Regions from separate parts of the Homo sapiens genome. Here region 2 is linked to region 1. The links come from fine-mapping of genetic effects on gene expression. Tissue or cell type: prefrontal cortex. Region 1 holds a variant in brackets; the other region holds the start of a gene. All regions are shown on one strand. Distances are from middle to middle.

Region 1 (4,224 bases):
TAAGAAAAAAATGGAAAATACATTCTTTCAGGATATTGCTAAATGAACAAATTATCACGGCTCTACCATATTCAAGACTACTAAAATGTCAGTCAAACTTACCAACGGGTACGAATGGTGCCTCTTTAGCTTTTCGAATGAGTTTTGATCCCTGATCTTCCTCATATGAAGGAAGGGAAACACCTGTGTCTGTTGACATAGTGATTGCTTGAAGAATCTCCCTGAGAAAGAATTTCTATGAGGTTCTGTAATTAAAAGCATCTGAACATTATTAAATATCTGGATGTATTTAAAATATTCCTAACTTCCATGAGAATCTTAGTATATGTTATCCATAATCCTAAAGTTAAAAAATATTTTTAGAAATTAACTGTATTTTTAATGTACAGTCACTCTCAAGGGAGAGTTGTATACACTTATTCCCCCTATTATTTTGCCGTTTCCCCTGTACAACCCATTCATTTTTAGCACCATGTTAATTAAAAATAGTGAAAAATTTTAAATTGATGTTACTTTTATCAATTAAAATAGTAGCTACTAATTTTCTGGCTATCTTCATCCTTAATCAACTATTTAACTTGACAATTTTAAGTTACTCAAACCAAACTGACAACTCCTATTGAACCTTCAATATCATGTTGGAAATCCTACTTAGCACTTTTCGGTGTAGTTAAATGCAGTCTTTATTGCTTTCAACTGCTGATTTATTTATTCCAATGTGCTTCCTTGCTTCAATTTTCACTTCAGATTAGTTTCCAGTCTATTACAGTAATCTGTTATCCATGGTGGTTGCCTCTGGGGAAAAGATTATTCTGAATAGCCAAAGTTTCTACCTAGCTCATTATTTACTCATTTTAAGAACAAAGCTTTTATTTTAAATATTGGTAGAAATGTCTCCTTCATAGCCTTTTAGATTTTTTTAATGACCTATGATTAGTTTTTTTTCTTTTTTGAGACTGAGTCTTGCTCTGTTGCCCAGGGTGGAGTGCAGTGGCACGATCTCGGCTCACTGCAACCTCCATTTGGCACACACCACCGTGCCTAATTTTTTTGTATTCTTTAGTAGAGACAGGGTTTCACTCCTGACCTCACGTGATCCACCCACCTCAGCCTCCCAAACTGCTGGGATTACAGGTGTGAGCCACTGTGCCAGCTTATGATTAGCTTTTTTTTTTTTTTTTGAGATGGAGTTTCGTTCTTGTTGCCCAGGCTGGAGTGCAATGGCGTAGTCTTGGTTCACTGCAACCTCTGCCTCCCAGGTTCAAGTGATTCTCCTGCCTCAGCCTCCCAAATACCTGGGATTAGAAGTGCCTGCCACCATGCCTGGCTAATTTTTTTTGTATTTTTAGTAGAGATGGGGTTTCACCATCTTGACCAGGCTGGTCTCGAACTCCTGACCTCAGGTGATCCACCTGCCTCCCAGTGTTGGGATTACAGGCATGAGCTACCACACCTGGCCCTATGATTAGCACCTTTTAACATCACTGCAGCACAAAACTGAATTACCCTCAGGGTCTTCTTAATATCTTCTAAGCTTCAGATCTGCCTTCATTTACATACCTTATATCCCCTAGGCTTCCTTTTAAAACTCTACCCTCTTTTTATAATTCCTTTAAATGGTATCCCAAAGGCAAGATCTAGCCTGATAGTGTATGAGTAAGGGGATAGGAAAAAAAAAAAAAGGATTCATTTTCATTATCACAGGGATCAAAGGCTCCTTTCCTCCTTTTCAGTCATCTCCGTGAATAGCCCTTTTATCACAATGAGGCATTAACAAATGCTATTTCATTTTAGCCACAATAACAAAGTATACTTTCTTCACTGAACTATTTTGAATTGCAATAAACTTTACTCACAGATAAAATAAGGGCCTGAAGCATAGTGTAAGCATACAAGTCTCTAATTAGTGTCAATTACAATAAACTTAAAAGTCTATGCCCATCCTAACACCCATATAAAATCTTACTTTCACTTCTGGGTTTTTCATGTGCATTATGCTCCCTTTGATAAAAGTACCTCTCATTCAACACCTTGCTACTCAAGGGGAGTCAGTGGCAGTTAAGGTCCTCAACAAAAATGCAACTCCGGAGGGGGTGGTGTGCTTAGTTTAGAAAGTGAATTCATCCCTATAAGCCTCACCTTCATTGAGAAGACTCAACTGTCATCTGACATAGAAGAAAATCTTAGCTAAATAAAAGAAAATTTAGATTGGACTTAAACCTTCTTTTTGTACTCCATTACTTCTTAACTGAATAAACTCCTAAGTAATGAGCTTTATTATATATAAGGTTCAATAAGCTCAAGGTTCAAGATACTCACTATATATCTGAATAATACAATATAAACACTAAAGTAATTAATCGTTCAAAAATTAGTTGTTGTTTTTTTTTTT[A/T]AAAAAAAAAGAGAAATCATGTAACCGCCAAACAGGTTCACCTTGCCCGCTGGCTAGACAGAGCTGATTTACCAAGACAGGGGAATTGCAATAGAGAAAGAGCAATTCACCCAAAGCCAGCTGTGTGGGAGACCAGGATTTTTATTATTAGTCAAATCAGTCTCTTGGAGCATTCAGGGATCAGTTTTTAAGGATAATTTGGTGGGTGGGGGAAGGCCAGAGAACAGAGTGCTGATTGGTTGGGTTGGAGATGAAATGGGAAGTTGAAGCTGTCCTCTTGTGCTGAGTCAGTTCCTAGGTAGGGGACATAAGATCAGACGAGCCAGTTTATTGATCTGGGTGGTGCCAGTTGGTCTATCAAGTGCAGGGTCTGCAAAATATCTCAAGCACTGATCTTAGGAGCATTTTAGGGAGGGTTAGAATCTTATAACTTCCGTCCCTCTCCCTCTCCCTCTCCCTCTCCGTCTCCCTCTCCGTCTCCCTCTCCCTCTCCCTCCTTCTCCGTCTCCGTCTCCGTCTCCGTCTCCGTCTCCCTCTCCCCACGGTCTCCCTCTCATGCGGAGCCGAAGCTGGACTGTACTGCTGCCATCTCGGCTCACTGCAACCTCCCTGCCTGATTCTCCTGCCTCAGCCTGCCGAGTGCCTGCGATTGCAGGCACGCGCCGCCACGCCTGACTGGTTTTGGTGGAGACGGGGTTTCGCTGTGTTGGCCGGGCCGGTCTCCAGCCCCTAACCGCGAGTGATCCGCCAACCTCGGCCTCCCGAGGTGCCGGGATTGCAGACGGAGTCTCGTTCACTCAGTGCTCAGTGGTGCCCAGGCTGGAGTGCAGTGGCGTGATCTCGGCTCACTACAACCTCCACCTCCCAGCCGCCTGCCTTGGCCTCCCAAAGTGCCGAGATTGCAGCCTCTGCCCGGCCGCCACCCCGTCTGGGAAGTGAGGAGTGTCTCTGCCTGGCCGCCCATCGTCTGGGATGTGAGGAGCCCCTCTGCCCGGCCGCCCAGTCTGGGAAGTGAGGAGCGTCTCCGCCCGGCCGCCATCCCATCTAGGAAGTGAGGAGCGCCTCTTCCCAGCCGCCATCACATCTAGGAAGTGAGGAGCGTCTCTGCCCGGCCGCCCATCGTCTGAGATGTGGGGAGCGCCTCTGCCCCACCGCCCCATCTGGGATGTGAGGAGCGCCTCTGCCCGGCCGAGACCCCGTCTGGGAGGTGAGGAGCGTCTCTGCCCGGCCGCCCCGTCTGAGAAGTGAGGAGACCCTCTGCCTGGCAACCACCCCGTCTGAGAAGTGAGGAGCCCCTCCGCCCGGCAGCTGCCCCGTCTGAGAAGTGAGGAGCCTCTCCGCCCAGCAGCCACCCCATCTGGGAAGTGAGGAGCATCTCCGCCCGGCAGCCACCCCGTCCGGGAGGGAGGTGAGGGGGGGTCAGCCCCCCGCCCGGCCAGCCGCCCCATCCGGGAGGGAGGTGGGGGGTCAGCCCCCCGCCCGGCCAGCCGTGCCATCCGGGAGGGAGGTGGGGGGGTCAGCCCCCCGCCCGGCCAGCCGCCCGGTCCGGGAGGTGAGGGGCGCCTCTGCCCGGCCGCCCCTACTGGGAAGTGAGGAGCCCCTCTGCCCGGCCAGCCGCCCCGTCCGGGAGGGAGGTGGGGGGGTCAGCCCTCCGCCCGGCCAGCCGCCCCGTCTGGGAGGTGAGGGGCGCCTCTGCCCGGCCGCCCCTACTGGGAAGTGAGGAGCCCCTCTGCCCGGCCAGCCGCCCCGTCCGGGAGGGAGGTGGGGGGGTCGGCCCCCCGCCCGGCCAGCCGCCCCGTCCGGGAGGGAGGTGGGGGTGTCGGCCCCCCGCC
Region 2 (4,116 bases), 23 kb before region 1:
GAAGGAAGAAACAAACTCCAGACACGCCACCTTTAAGAACTGTAATAACACTCACCGCGAGGGTCTGCGGCTTTGTTCTTGAAGTCAGTGAGACCAAGAACCCACAATTCTGGACTCAATAACTTTATTCATAATTACCAAAAATGAGAAAAAAACAAGATGTACTTCAATAGGTGAGTAGATAACCTGGTACACTCATACCGGTGAATATTATTCAGTGATGAAAAGAAATGAGCTATCACGCCACGAAAAGACATGAAAGAAACCTAAATGTGTATTGTTAAGTGAAGAAGCCGGTCTGAAAAGGCTACATGCTGTATAATTGCAAACTGTATAATATTCTGAAAAAGGCAAAATTACAGAGAAGTAAAAGATACCAGTGATTGTAAATCCCTTCTAAATGAAAAATATCAGTGGTTTCCAGGGGTTGGTGGGAAGGAACAATGAACAGTAAAGCCTAGGGGGTTTTTGGGGAGGTGAAACTGTTCTGTATACTTTACTGGTGGATACACAGCATTACACATTTAGCAAAACTTGTAGACCTGTGCAACCTTAAGCAATGAACACTGGCCAGGTGTGATGACTCACACCTGTAATCTCAACACTCTACGAAGCCAAGGTGGGAGGACCACTTGAGGCCAGGAGTTTGAGACCAGCTTGGGCAACATAGCAAGACCATAGCTTTACAAAAAATAAAAAAATTAGCTGGGCATGGTGGCATGTGCCTGTGTTCCCAGTTACTCAGGAGGCTGAGGTGGGAGGATTGCTTGAGCCCAGGGGTTGGAGGCTACTGTGAGCCATGATCATGCCACCGCACTCCAGCCTGGGTGACAAAGTGAGACCCTGTCTCAATACAGCAGCAGCAACAACAACAACAGATGAACTCTAATGTAAACTATGGACTTTAGTTAGTAATAACATACCAGTATAGTTGTATCAATGATAACAAATGTACCACACCAATGCAATGTGTAAGATGTTAACAACAGAGGAAATGGGAATACGGAATACATAAAGGAACTGTTTTTTGTTTAATGCTTCTAAAAATCTGCTTTAAGTCTATTTTCTTTTAAAAGTAAAGGCTAAGCCGGGCGTGGTGGCTCATGCGTGTAATCCCAAAACTTTGGGAGGCTGAGGTGGGTGGATCACCTGAGGTCAGGAGTTTGAGACCAGCCTGGCCAACATGGTGAAACCCCATCTCTACTAAAAATACCAAAATTAGCCAGGCATGGTGGCGGGCGCCTGTAATCCCAGCTACTCGAGCCCAAGGCAGGAGAATCGCTTGAACCTGGGAGGCAGAGGTTGCAATGAGCCAAGATCGCGCTACTGCACTCCAGCCTGGGCGATAGAGCGAGACTCCGTCAAAAAAAAAAAAAAAAAAAAAAAGTAATAATAAAAAAAATAAAGTAAAGGCTAGAGCTGCATGGAAAGAACTCTTGGCTCAGGTAGGACTTAGAGCCAGGGAGTAGGAAGAGTGGCATGCACTCTGGAGTCCTATGAGGAAGCAAGATCCCACAGGATATGGGACCATAGGTGACAGGGACCAGTGAGGAAGGATTGAGACCCCTTGCCCCATCGGCCTGCCACTTTTTTCATTGTTTTTCTCTTCCCCTCTCCTTCTCTTTCTTCTTTTCTTTTACTGTGTTCTTTTCGAGTATTCTCAACAACAGTCTAGGGGCCTGGAGGTGTGGGGAGGCCGCCCACGGATGCCTAGTTTGGCGCTCTGTGCACTGCTAGCATCTTCGTAGGGATGGGTTTGGGATGGGAGCGGGGTGATGCTCTGGTTCTCAGGGCTGGACTCCGGGCTTGGAGGGGAACTCCCTCTTGCGAGTCCCCAGTCCTGTGGGGGCTGGGCCTGGAAGGGGAACTGGGAGATGCGGAAGTGCACGCCGTCGGGTCGCATCTTTCAGTGCGGTGCGAGAGGGCCCAGTGGCAGAGGCCCAGCAAACAGCGCTTGTCAGGCGGACCTGAGTTCGAGTTCTGACTGTGCCATCTACGCTATGACTTTGGGGCAGGCGACCCACCCTCTGCGCCTCATTAACCCATGTACTGCATGGAAAATAAGCGTCTGCCTGGGTTAGAAGAGGGCTGTGTGTGAAGATTCAAAGGACGAAGGGGAAGAGTCCTCGCTGGGCGCCCAGCACGCGGTGAGCGCCCGGCCAGTGGCAGCGCGCTCGGGCTGGGGTTGCGCTCGGGCTCGGTTCCGCGCCCCCGGCAGCTGCGGGCTTTCCCAGCTCCGGCCCGGGCCCTTCCGCTCTCCCCGGCACTTACAGCGGTCTCTCTCCACTTCTCCCTTCTAGGACCGCGGCGGCTAGGTCACCTCCTCCGGACGCCGACACGCGCTGCCCTGGCAACCGTCACCAGGGAAACAAGCGACGTCACTTGCGCGTTTTCAACGCTACTCTACGGGGGCCGAGGGGGCGCCAAGAGTTCTGAAAGTGACAGAGGCGCTGATGGCGCGCTGGGCTGGATCCAAGCGAGCACGATCTCGAGTGCGCTGGAGATTTTAAATCTTCTGGAGTATATTTTTAAAAAAGTTTTGTGGACCAAACGTTCTGCACAGAGATGCCCATTCCGCTCTCCTGTTGGGGAGTTAAAAAGCGAACGATCTCACCATGAAATTTAAAGTAGCCATTCAGATATATTTGAAAAATGTAAAACAGTGTGGGGAAAGGCCATGTTATGATGGTGAGTGAAGGAAGCAGGACGCAATATAGCAATGCTAAATAAATAAAGTTGTGTTTATTTCAAACTAGGCACTAAAACAAGACCGAAATAGAAATATTAAAAGTGGTTATATTTGGGTGGTGGAATAGCAGTGCTGTGTTTTTATTTTTACACTTTAGAGAATTTTTAAAATAATGAACATCGTTTATTTTCATAAAGGAAAATACTTGTTTTTTTTTTTTTAAATGGCACCTTCCAATGTAAGACACTACTATATTTCAGGGCAATATGGGGGTGGGAGGCAAATTTCTAGGAAAGATGATTCAAGGGAGATTTCTTTCTATCTATCTATCTATCTAATCTATCTATCTATCTATGATAGAGTCTCGCTGTGTCGCCCAGGCTGGAGTGCAGTGGTGCGATCTCAGCTCATTGCAACCTCCATTTCCCAGGTTCAAGCGATTCTCCTGCCTCAGCCTCCTGAGTAGCTGGGATTACAGGCACCCGCCACCACACCTGGCTAATTTTTTTATTTTTAGTGGAGACGGGGTTTCACCATGTTGACCAGGCTGGTCTTGAACTCCTGACCTCAGGTGATCCGCCCACCTTGGCCTCCTAAAGTGCCGGGATTACAGGCGTGAGCCACAGCTCCTGCCCAAATATTTATCCAGGACTTCATAATTTGAAAACCTTGGCAGTTGTTTTTCTATTTTTTTTCCTCATAAGGTGAATGAATACCCATCCCATAGACATGCATACATAAGATACGGCACTAGACTGCCATCAGCACTGCAGGTATAAACCCGAAGTTTCCTGATAAAGGAAAAATGGATCTTTCCCGTTGGTCTCCAATTGCTGCCTGGTGAGCTGAGGGTGGGAGACGTATAATATACAGGTGGCAGCAAAGAGAGACAGGATAAAGAGTAGGATTCAGGTAGATGTGAGCCTCAAAGGATTAGGGTTTTTTTTAAATGGTGTGTGTAGTGGGGAGTATCATTCGTTTGCCTCATGACCACGATGGGACTATGTGGCATAGGAAAAGGAATAGCCAGGTCTACTTAGAGGGCTTCTGGAAAGCATGGATCCTAGCAGAAAGCCAGGTTTTCATTAAAATAAGAACATGCTGTGAGAAAATTAAGGATGCAAGAGAATTTCAGAACCGACATTCTAGAATGTATGTATTAGAAAGTTTGGGAAAGGGGTAACATTTGCTCCAGCAATCCAAGGATTATTTTTGACGAGGATATCATTTTTGCAGTAACCCATTTTTTAAAAAGCAGGGATGATTTTCCTCTAGGTTTGTTACTTTTCCACGGTCACCACTAAGGCTCTCATGCCATTTTTTTTTTCTGCCCAAAATTCTTTTGAGAATTTTCTTTAGTTTATAAGCTTGACATTTTATCATCCAAGAAGCTGGCGAATCCAATCTGGGTCACCAGTATTTCCTCA

Evidence for each region. PIP is the estimated chance that this variant, and not a neighbour inherited with it, causes the effect.
Region 2: it holds the start of CCDC13, and the variant in region 1 is the best candidate, but not a certain one, in a credible set for the expression of CCDC13 in prefrontal cortex (ROSMAP, PIP 0.51).

What each region holds. Positions count from the first base shown.
Region 1 is chr3:42,794,055-42,798,278 of GRCh38, forward strand. HIGD1A (HIG1 hypoxia inducible domain family member 1A) reads right to left here. Exons shown (of 4, transcript NM_014056.4): 2 at 103-221. The coding sequence starts at 199. Among named protein-coding and RNA genes, the nearest start is that of HIGD1A, 8.3 kb to the right of the region's middle. The variant A/T (reference allele first, on the strand shown) is at 2,393.
Region 2 is chr3:42,770,905-42,775,020 of GRCh38, forward strand. It overlaps CCDC13 (coiled-coil domain containing 13), which reads right to left and starts at 2,349. Exons shown (of 16, transcript NM_144719.4): 1 at 2,272-2,349. CCDC13-AS2 (CCDC13 antisense RNA 2) reads left to right here. Exons shown (of 2, transcript NR_122070.1): 1 at 1-173; 2 at 2,301-2,731. RefSeq lists a silencer at 2,070-2,229 and an enhancer at 2,360-2,529.